3 separate regions of the Homo sapiens genome follow, and all the other regions are reported to be linked to region 1. The links are microRNA targets in miRTarBase. Many come from high-throughput screens and were not tested one by one. Region 1 holds a microRNA gene; each other region holds the end of a gene's coding sequence.
The links. The annotated mature microRNA hsa-miR-4773 reads CAGAACAGGAGCAUAGAAAGGC and lies in region 1 at 1,610-1,631, opposite strand. An mRNA with a match to its seed (bases 2 to 7 or 8) in the 3' UTR can be bound and repressed. Matches are read on the target gene's strand: a 7mer-m8 pairs with bases 2 to 8, a 7mer-A1 pairs with bases 2 to 7 and ends in A, and an 8mer does both.

Region 2: miRTarBase lists PGAP4 as a target of hsa-miR-4773. The part of its 3' UTR that is shown has no 7-base or 8-base seed match.
Region 3: the mRNA of NUP37 is a reported target of hsa-miR-4773. Seed matches in the 3' UTR shown: 7mer-m8 at 2,561-2,567, 7mer-A1 at 1,909-1,915 and 7mer-m8 at 1,807-1,813.

The regions. Positions count from the first base shown.
Region 1 is chr2:151,366,734-151,369,996 of GRCh38, forward strand. MIR4773-2 (microRNA 4773-2) reads right to left here and starts at 1,678; the gene lies at 1,601-1,678. The region is part of intron 3 of TNFAIP6 (TNF alpha induced protein 6); the gene reads left to right. It overlaps MIR4773-1 (microRNA 4773-1), which reads left to right and starts at 1,601; the gene lies at 1,601-1,678. The region is part of intron 2 of LOC101929319 (a long non-coding RNA gene); the gene reads right to left.
Region 2 is chr9:101,473,354-101,476,616 of GRCh38, forward strand. It overlaps PGAP4 (post-GPI attachment to proteins GalNAc transferase 4), which reads right to left. Exons shown (of 2, transcript NM_032342.3): 2 at 1-3,263. The coding sequence ends at 2,528. The region is part of intron 1 of TMEM246-AS1 (TMEM246 antisense RNA 1); the gene reads left to right. Among named protein-coding and RNA genes, the nearest start is that of TMEM246-AS1, 6.5 kb to the left of the region's middle.
Region 3 is chr12:102,071,612-102,074,874 of GRCh38, forward strand. NUP37 (nucleoporin 37) reads right to left here. Exons shown (of 10, transcript NM_024057.4): 10 at 1,492-2,856. The coding sequence ends at 2,743. Among named protein-coding and RNA genes, the nearest start is that of WASHC3, 11 kb to the left of the region's middle.

The DNA of each region.
Region 1 (3,263 bases):
TTTTGTGTATATATGCTAGTACTTCCAAACTAAGCAACTCTAATTCTATGGTTTAACAATTATATACTGTATATACTAGCTATCATTATACCATATATTTTTATTCATATTTTTTCCATGTTTGCTTGCAACTAGGAAATAATGAGAAAATTAACTCATAATTACTATAAAGAATTATTCTTAGGTCACGTTCTTGGAGAAAAAGTAGGCTGTTCTTTTTGGGTATATTTCCACCAGGACAATGTTACAAAATATTACAGTATGTTACAAAGTCTTCCTGGCATTTAGGATCATAAACATCCTCAGATGTGTCCCATTTGGATTTACCCTATAAGAAATTCCATAACACAGTAGGAGAGTTACATAGTGAGGTTTTAGTGTATTATTATAAAATCTATTATTTAATTATATTAACATTTGGAGAATAGTTTCTCATGTCTGTAACTAACCTATATCTCAAAATTATGTGTAGTCCAAGTAGAAAGATTTTTGCCTACAGCTACAACTAGTCTTAACTGAGACAAAATAGGAATAAATACTTAACAGTGCATTTATGTAACTTTAACTTTCAAGTCACTTTGACATGCTTTAAGCTTATTTAGTCCTATACTATACAGTACTAATTTAGTCCTATATTTAGTTATGTCAACAATATGTATCTTCCTTTCCTCCCTCCCTCTCTTACATTTTCTTAAATATATTTATGCAGACCACTCTTTTTTACTCTTAAGAGTAACTCTTCTTTTCAAATGTATTCTCTGATTCTTCTTTCACTTGATAAACTTTAGGATCTCTGAGCTTCCACTGGATAATTTCCATAGATTAAACTCTAGAGTCATTGAAGAAGTGCCAATGAAATGGTCCTTTCAGTATTTCATTGCCCTTTCATAAGAATATAATCCTAAATTATAAATTATTATAAGTTGCTTTCTTTTCTCAGAGAGGCTGAATACACTCTGGGAATACAGAATCCTGGGAGATTTGTTTTTACCCAATTCTCAGTGCATTTAGCTCGCTTTTGGATTTGGTGGTATGCTGACTATTTAGGATGTGGTTAACTTGAAGGAGACTTGACCGCCTGAACTAGCACTGGGGGAACAGCTCACTGAAACATCACTGGAATAAAAAAAAAAAATAATGGCTTCACAAAAATAAAGCAATCATTATTGATTAATCAATGTCACCAAGTTAGAGCTGATATTCTAAATAATAGATGAGGCAGTAACTAGATATAACATAAAATATAGATCTAAATAAATATAGCCAAATAGGCAGCCAAATTAGTTCAATATTTGAATTTTTTCTAATCTATTAATATATACAACAAAGATTGGATGCTATGGGATGGAACAACTCGCTCCTAAAGCTGGCAATGTACATCCTTATGCAGACATACAAACTATGTGTTGTATATTTTATTATACAGTAAGAATAGCTTATGGGTTGCATAACATCCTTAAATTATTTTCTGTATTTTATCCTTAGAATAACCCTGTGTGATAGATAATGGGAAAGGTATGGCTACATTTATTTTACCAATGAAGAAAATGAAGTGTAGAGTAGTCACCAAGCTTGAACTAGATCCTTGACCTTCATTTGTTGCTCCCCAGCCTTTCTATGCTCCTGTTCTGCTTTATTTCATCAAAGCAGAACAGGAGCATAGAAAGGCTGGGGAGCATCTTTTTTCTAGACATTAGACACTTACCTGATATGGAATTAAAATTAACCAGGGCTTCTTCCTAGCTTTCCCTCTAGGTCATATTGCAAACCACTGATTCTGAGACAGCGTTTTTGTTTTGTTTTATATGTGTTTGTTTTTCTTATGACAATTTATAACATATTGAAATCTGTTAAATGATGAATGACTTGGAAAAACAAACATGAATATCTCCATCAAATCTTAAAATATTAGGATTAGGGTATTAGTTTAAAATCAGTAAAGGCAGTATACAGAATAATTATAAATTATTCCTTTTAAGTGGATTAGAGTGACTTTAAAGTCTCTTGCGATCATGAAATTGTATAATGATTTTCCAAGCAGAATTTATGGGATCCATTATTCTAAGTGCTTGTGGCCCTGAAGACATATGGTGACACCACAGGGCAAAGTCCCTACCATCTTGATAGGGCTGTTTGTAATATAAATGTGTATATATTTGTCAAAATACATAGACATAGGCCAGGTGCCATGGCTCACACCTATAATCCCAACACTTTGGGAAGCTGAGGTGGGTCGATCACCAGAGGTCAGGAGTTCAAGTCCAACCTGGCCCACATGGCAAGACCCTATCTCTACTAAAAATACAAAAATTAGCCAGACGTGGTGGCTCATGCCTGTAATCCCAGCTACTCAGAAGGCTGAGGCATAAGAATTTCTTGAACAATTGCAGAGGCTACAGTGAGCCGAGATTGTGCCACTGCACTCCAGCCTGGGCAACAGAGTGAGACTCCATTTCAAAAAACAACAACAACAAAAAATAGGCGTGTGCACAAAAGACTTGTTATGTTATGCCTTAAAAGATAAAATAAAAATATTTTTAAAAGTACAATTAATTACATTACAATTCTTTTAATTTTAAAATTTATTTTTATTTTTATTTTTTAGAGCTGGAGGTCTCACTATGTTGCCCAGGTTGGCCTCAAACTCCTAGGCTCATGAGATTCTTCTGCCTCAGCCTCCCAATTAGCTGGGACTAAGGGTGAGCATCACTACACCTAGCCATTTTTTTCTTACTATATTTACTTTTTTAAAATTCATGGCTGGGCACAGTGGCTCATGTTTATAATCTCAGCACTTTCAGAGGCAGAGGCAGGAGGCTCACTTGAGGTCAGGAGTTCAATACCAGCCTGGGCAACATTGCAAGATCCATTTCCACACAAAAAAAATAAAAATTACCAGGGCTGGGTGGCACATGCCTGTCATCCCAACTACTTAGGAGGCTGAAGTGGGAGGATTGCTTGAGCCAAGGAGTTCAAGGCTGCAATAAGCTATGATTGGGTCACCGCACTCCAGCCTAGGTGACAGAGCGAGATCTTGTCTCAAAATATAAAAATAAAAATAAATTCACAAAGAGTCCATGTTCATTTTAGAGAATTTAGTAACTATTGATGAAAAAATACATTTATTCTTTAGCTAAAAGCATACATAATATACCATAGATGCTGTATACTAAGACATTTAACATTTCATAAAAAGTAATAGATTGCTAAGAAATGTCATTTTTAACAGGGATAATGTTTTTCCTAATGCTTTGGGGTTTTTA
Region 2 (3,263 bases), not on the chromosome of region 1:
AGCCCCTTGCTTAGGATTAAGTGAGAGACTTCAGCTTTGGTGTAAAGCTGTCAGCTGCCCTAATCAAGGACAATACACAAAAATTAGACTCCTTATAAGAATAAGGGATTAAATGGAGGAAGATCTAGAAGTGGGTGGGAACAAAAGAGCAGAACTGAGCCTGCATCTGCAGAAAATGTCCAAAGACAACTGGCAGAGTTCACTCCATGGGGAAAAGGCATGTTAGTGTGTAGGTAGAGAAACTGGACAAGGAAGGATGGCCTTAGCCTTCCATAATGGAGAAGTCGGGCAGGGGATGTCTGCATGCAATAGACAACTGAATTAGAAAGAGCAGAAATGTAAACCAGCAGTGCTTCCCTATCTTGGGCCTGGCTAGCTTAAAGGGGCTCTACTGTCATTGGTCAAAAAACTTTCATGAGGAGATCCAATCACTAATGCAACAAACTCTAATGAGTTCTAAGTTGGAGAGAGCTCAGTTCTAAAGCTTGGGGGTAGACAGGTCACTGAGAGAGGAGGAATGAAGGAGTGGGATCTGAACATTGTAATAAGTCATCTAGTAGCTCTGATCACTTTGGACATTGCTGGGGGATACATAACAGCTCACTATAACATTACAACACATACTTATATCTGTTTGCTCCTCCAAACTAACATGACAATGTGTTTCTGCCATCTTAGCTTACAGAGACATGATCTAGTTCAGCTTATACTCAGATTTTACAAAAGAGACTTTGACCACATAGATATTCATAAAATTAATGTGGTTAAGAAAAAAGTGCAGGGGCTTGAAGTCAGAAGAGCTCCGTTCCCATTTTGGCTATGCTGCTGTTCAGGTTTGTGACCTGCAGAGCAGTTTAGCATCTCTGGGTCTCAATTTGTTCATCTGTAGAGCGTGGGTGATCAACCTTTATGTAATCCTTCTGTGTTGAGTGGGTCTCAAGATGGAAGCTCACTATGGGAATTTAAAAGCAAACTGTGGCATCGAAACAAACTGGACAATTGCTTGAACTCTAATATCATCATCCATCCTCATAAAGTAACTTGTTGGTCACTAGTCTGACAGTACTGTTAAAAGACATTTATTTGTAACTTTTGAGAAAATAATTTTCAGACTCTGATCTTAGAATAAGCTCATGAGGAGTCTCATTTCCAAGCTGGAGATCATTTCCAGTTTGAATGAACAATTCTTCTTTTTGGCTTGGGTGAACGTGGGGATAGGTGAAAGCTGAGCTGCACATCCTTCAGAGGTCACAATGAAAAGTCAGTCTTTATTCTAGCAGGGCTTGGTCATCTGGAATAGCTGGTACATAGGTGGCAGCTCCATGCCCTATCTCATACTTTAAACAACATCACCAATATCTTTTTCCGAAATAAGCTTGAGTTGTATATGTTTATTATAGGAGAGAAAAGTTTGCCAAGCGTCTTCTATGGACTAAGCACTTGCTAGGTGTTTTACATATATTCTGCCATTTAATCCTCAAGGCAACTTTAACATGTAAGTATTACTGTCCTCATTTTACAGGTGAAGAAATTGAGACCCAGAGTGATTATATGACCTGCCCAAGGTGGTCACGTCGTTAGGCCATGGCAGAGATCTGAAATAAAAGGTCAGGTCTTCTGACTTCAGTCCATGATTTTTTTTTTTTTTTTTCTATAACATCATGCTACCTAGAAGAAAAAGAAATGAAGGTAAGCAGTCAGCCAGGAAAGTCAGGAAAAATGATATGCTACTTGTAAAGAGCTCCCCTATATTGTATCATTCTGAAATGTCCAATTTTCAAAGAGTCAGAGTAGTACAGAAATGTTCAATGTTAAATCACTACTCAACATAAGCAATCTGACTTTGATGGTTCACAAGCTCTTCCAGATCTTGTCGTGCCTTAAAGTTCTCACTAACAATATCAATTATCAGTGCACTACAGATATATAGGAAAAGAAAATCCCAGGTAACAGAAAAGCCAGATCACCTGCCTCCAAGATGCCGGGCACTGCACGGCTTTTATCAGTTTTTATTACATCAGGTCAAGGAAACAAATGGAATCTATCCACATGGTCCTGCCTCGTTGGGCATATATTCTAAACATACATCCATTTTCATACCCAATGAGAAAGAACTCAATTCCAAAGGATCTCACCTTTCACAAAATTCTACCCTTAAGATCCTAAAACAGTCATATCACTGTGCACAAAATTTTTGGCAGTCACAAGCTCTAACACAAAGCAGAGCTTAAAAACAAATGGAGAATATAATCAGTGTTCAAATGCACCCTCACTGGGTGGGTCAGACTGCATGAGGCAGTGTGGCTGTGTGGAGGGAGAGGTCCGGACCTGTGGCAAACTGCTGCTCCTGCCAGGAGGCTACCAAAGCCAAGGCTCTTAACATATTGAGGTTCCTCAGCTGCCCCAGTGCCTATATCTCTAACAACAGTAAACAGTGAAATACCTGCAGGCAACCATGTCTAAATAAAGAGATAAATATTTGAATCTTCAAGAAGTGGCCAACTTCAGAAAGGCATCTCTTGGCACCCTAGAGGAGACTGGGATGAAAGTTGTACCGGAGACTGGAGAAGAGCCCGATGTGTTTCACGAGGTTCGGCTCCACTACATAGGCCCTCTCTCCCTTGGCCCTCAACAGCGAGTACAGTGCCATGTCCTTGCCAAAGCCCTTGTGGCAGTACACTTGGGACAGGTAGGTGAGGGTCCGGCGGGCCGCAGGTGCCGGGAAGAGCATGGCTGGGGTGCAACACTGAGAGGCAGGAACCACACTGTACAGGGAAGGACTCAGCCGCCGCAGTTCCAGGAAATAGTGCCGACCCACCAGCTCCACCAGACCCATGCTATACAGGGAGAAGAAGAGCATTACAGGCCAGCTAAACCCTGGGCGGCTGGCAAACCTCATGTATATCCAGGTTAGTAAGGGCCCCAGCAACATGCCTACACCAACCCATTCCAGGATCCGCATGGGCTCTGGATTGATGTAGTGCTGGAGCCTCTCGGGGTGATACAGCTTGAGATAAAGGGCATCTCTGAGATGTGGCTCAGAGAAGCGAGCCCGCAGAAGGTGCTCCAAGACTGGGAAGATCTGCTCTTCTGGTACAGCATCGTCTTCTACCATCAGGACGTAGTCTGGGTTGTAGGTCTGCAGGGATGACTCCAGGCAATAGACATAGTCCTGCTTCTCTTTCTCAAACGAGTTGGTCGAAGGGTCATCACCATAATCATCCTCAGTGCCCTCATAGCGATTGGCCACAGGGACATACTTG
Region 3 (3,263 bases), not on the chromosome of region 1:
CCAATAACTAATTCCTCATAAATACTTCCTCCTGTCTTAGTGTAATATAAACATATTTCGAAGAACAAAGTTTACTAAGAAAAAAACAACATTATACGATTTTAAAATAATTAAACACAATAAAGTTTAACAACAAAGTATAAGTTGGAACATGGTCCTGTAGCCTACTTTTAAGATCTAAAAAAAGAAAAAGAGGTTAGAGTTCTCAATGCTTACATAGGATAAAGTACATTTCACTCCTGAAACTAACAGGTAAAGGCAACCCTCTCATTTCTTGAGAATGTCTTATCTTACAGTCACTATATTAATCCACAAATGGAATCACTATTTTCTTCTGAGGATAACACTTCCTGCCTCTTTTTGGCATAACAGTATACAATCATCATGAGTTATCTTTTCCCAAAACAGCTTCCCCTACTAAAAGATAGAAGTTCTATTGGGTATTTTTTTTTTTTTTTTGAGATGGAGTCTTGCTCTGTCACCCAGGCTAAAGTGCAGTGGTGTAATCTTGGCTCACCACCACCTCTGCCTCCAGGGTTCAAGCGATTCTCATGGCTCAGCCTCCCAAGTAGCTGGGATCATAGGCACGTGCCATCACGTCCTGCTAATTTTGTTTTTGTATTTTTAGTAGAGGTGGGTTTTCAACATGTTGGCCAGGCTGGTTTTGAACTCCTGACCTCAAGTGATCCGCCCACCTCGGCCTCCCGAAGTGTTGGGATTACAGGCATGAGCCACTGCGCCCAGCCCTACTGGGTAATTTCATCAGACAACTTTTATATTTTGGTTAAGCCCTTATTCCAGAGAATCCATTTCTTATATACCCAAGCCCAACATAATCATCTCCTTAATTTCCATCCCTAAATAAAACCCACCCACTTCATGCATCAATTTTTCTAAGTATATGACAACAATTTTTGAACACACTAGCCTTAGAGATGATTTTTATATTTCTTGGACATATCCTGAAATGACAAATTCTTGTAAGAGTCACTATTGATAGCCCTTTGGCTATCCTGATGCTTTTAGGAATCCTTGCCCCATCACAGAGATTCTTAAAGAGAACCATGTCAAAATTCCTTGCTCTTTGCTTTTTCCTTTGTTAGTTCAAAATCTTCTTATGAAGGGGTAAACAAAACAATTTATATCATTTGGTTATAATATTTAACTGTATTAAAAAATTGACTAGGAAATTGCTATAAAATTTTTCATCTGTACTTTAAAGCATGTAAAAGTTGAACCCAAACATCTACATGGTTATAAAATTTCACTGAATTCTTTCTTTTAATTACCTGGAACATTCTCCTATCTCTTAAAAATATAATGTTCTTGATTCTACAATTATTTTAAGACACCTTAAGAATAGAAAACTGGAGTAAAAAATATTTACTGGCATTAAACATAAATCTCTAAAACCTCAAAAATAAGACCTACTCATCTCTGAAATAAATAATTTCTATACATCTCTGAACCACGTGACAGACACATACTAGGTATTTTCATTCACCTTTATTTAATCTTTACAGCAACTCCACAAAATAATGATTCCTATCTGTACTTTACAAGAGGAAATGAAGCTTCAAAAAGGGCATTAACTTGCAGGAATGGGCAGTTTGTCAAAATGTATTGGATTCTGTATGTGACTGACAAGCAGAACCATAATTTTATATGCTTCTGACTGTACCATGATGTATCCCAAAAATGTGATACAGCTGTCTTAGATAACGTTGATTTTAATGATCTTTGAGAGGGTGAACACAGTTCCATTGCCAACAGGTCCCATCTCAAAAACACTTAAGTTTCTTGGTAAGAACAGTGAAAATTCACAAAAAGGAGGCTGTTAAAGGTATACACTAGAAGTCATTTTTCAAGGTAACTTTTGATCCCATATATCAGATGTTCTAAGACTGTTAGAACACCTCGTCCAAAGGAATCTGCGTATAATAAACAGGGTTGAGCAATATAATCAATCACATATTTAAGAAACTGAAAACAATTTTTTACATTAAATTGAGTACACATACACATATATATACTCAACAACCACTTCCAGAATACCCTAAGATATTTTTTTCTCCTTGGATTTTTTTTCTTTTGAGATAGTCTCGCTCTGTCGCCCAGGCTGCAGTGAAGTGGCACGATCTTGGCTCACTGTAACCTCTGCCTTCCAGGTTCAAGTGATTCTCCTGCCTCAGTCTTCCAAACCATGCTTGGCTAATTTTTTTTATTTTTATTTTTTTAGTAGAGATAGGGTTTCACCATGTTGGCCAGGTTGGTCTTGAACTCCTCACCTCAAGTGATCCACTCCCTTCAGCCTCCCAAAGTGTTGGGATTACAAGTGTGAGCCATTGTACCTGGCCTTTTTTTCTCTTTTGATAAATGTGTCCCTGAGAATTAGAAAAACAGCATATACTCAAAGTATAGAAAACAGGATACACTTCAAATACTCCTTTTTTGATAAACTCAAAAGCATTATTTTTCCTTAGTCATCTCTTCTCTGGAGGTGAGCTGCTGAGTCAATATGATTTTGTAAGATTAAAAATATATATATATACACACACAGAGAACAGAGTAGAAAAATAATTTTTCAAACCATCAACATTTTATTTAATAAAAGCAACTGAGACATTTTCTAAAGTATACGGTATATTTGATATAAAAATTCTTCAAAATATGTACTATAGAAATTCTTCAAAATATGTACTAAAAATACAAAGTTTGTGAATCTAAGGTACAGAAAACACTTTATACTTCAGTCACCCAAAACAACAGCTTGTGGTCTCCTCCAATTACACACAGAGGGAGAGTTCGATGCCAGGACAGTCCAGATCCAACGGCTACAGAACCCATGAGGATGGGCTATAAAATATGTGAAGAATTAAAGAAGCACAGTAAGTCCCCAAAATTAATAAATAAAAATGACTTTCAAAAATATGAAATGCATTGATGATTTATCTTTGTAGCATAAACAAAATTTAAAAATATGCTCCCTTACAGGTGAAATACACATTATTGATACGCAGCTGAAACATGGGATACAATCCATCTATGAATAACTGGTACAGTCCAGACTCCATTTTTGCAGTCTACACCAACCAAACAAGCAAAATTAATGTATTTAAATAAAGAAGAAAATATAAAAGCAACAGAATAAAAAGCTTCTTATATGAATACTGGCCAAAAAAACCTGTTGTCACTGGTAATGTAAACATCAAAAAAAAACCACACAAAAAACAAAAACAAATGAACCACCTTTTCTTGCAATT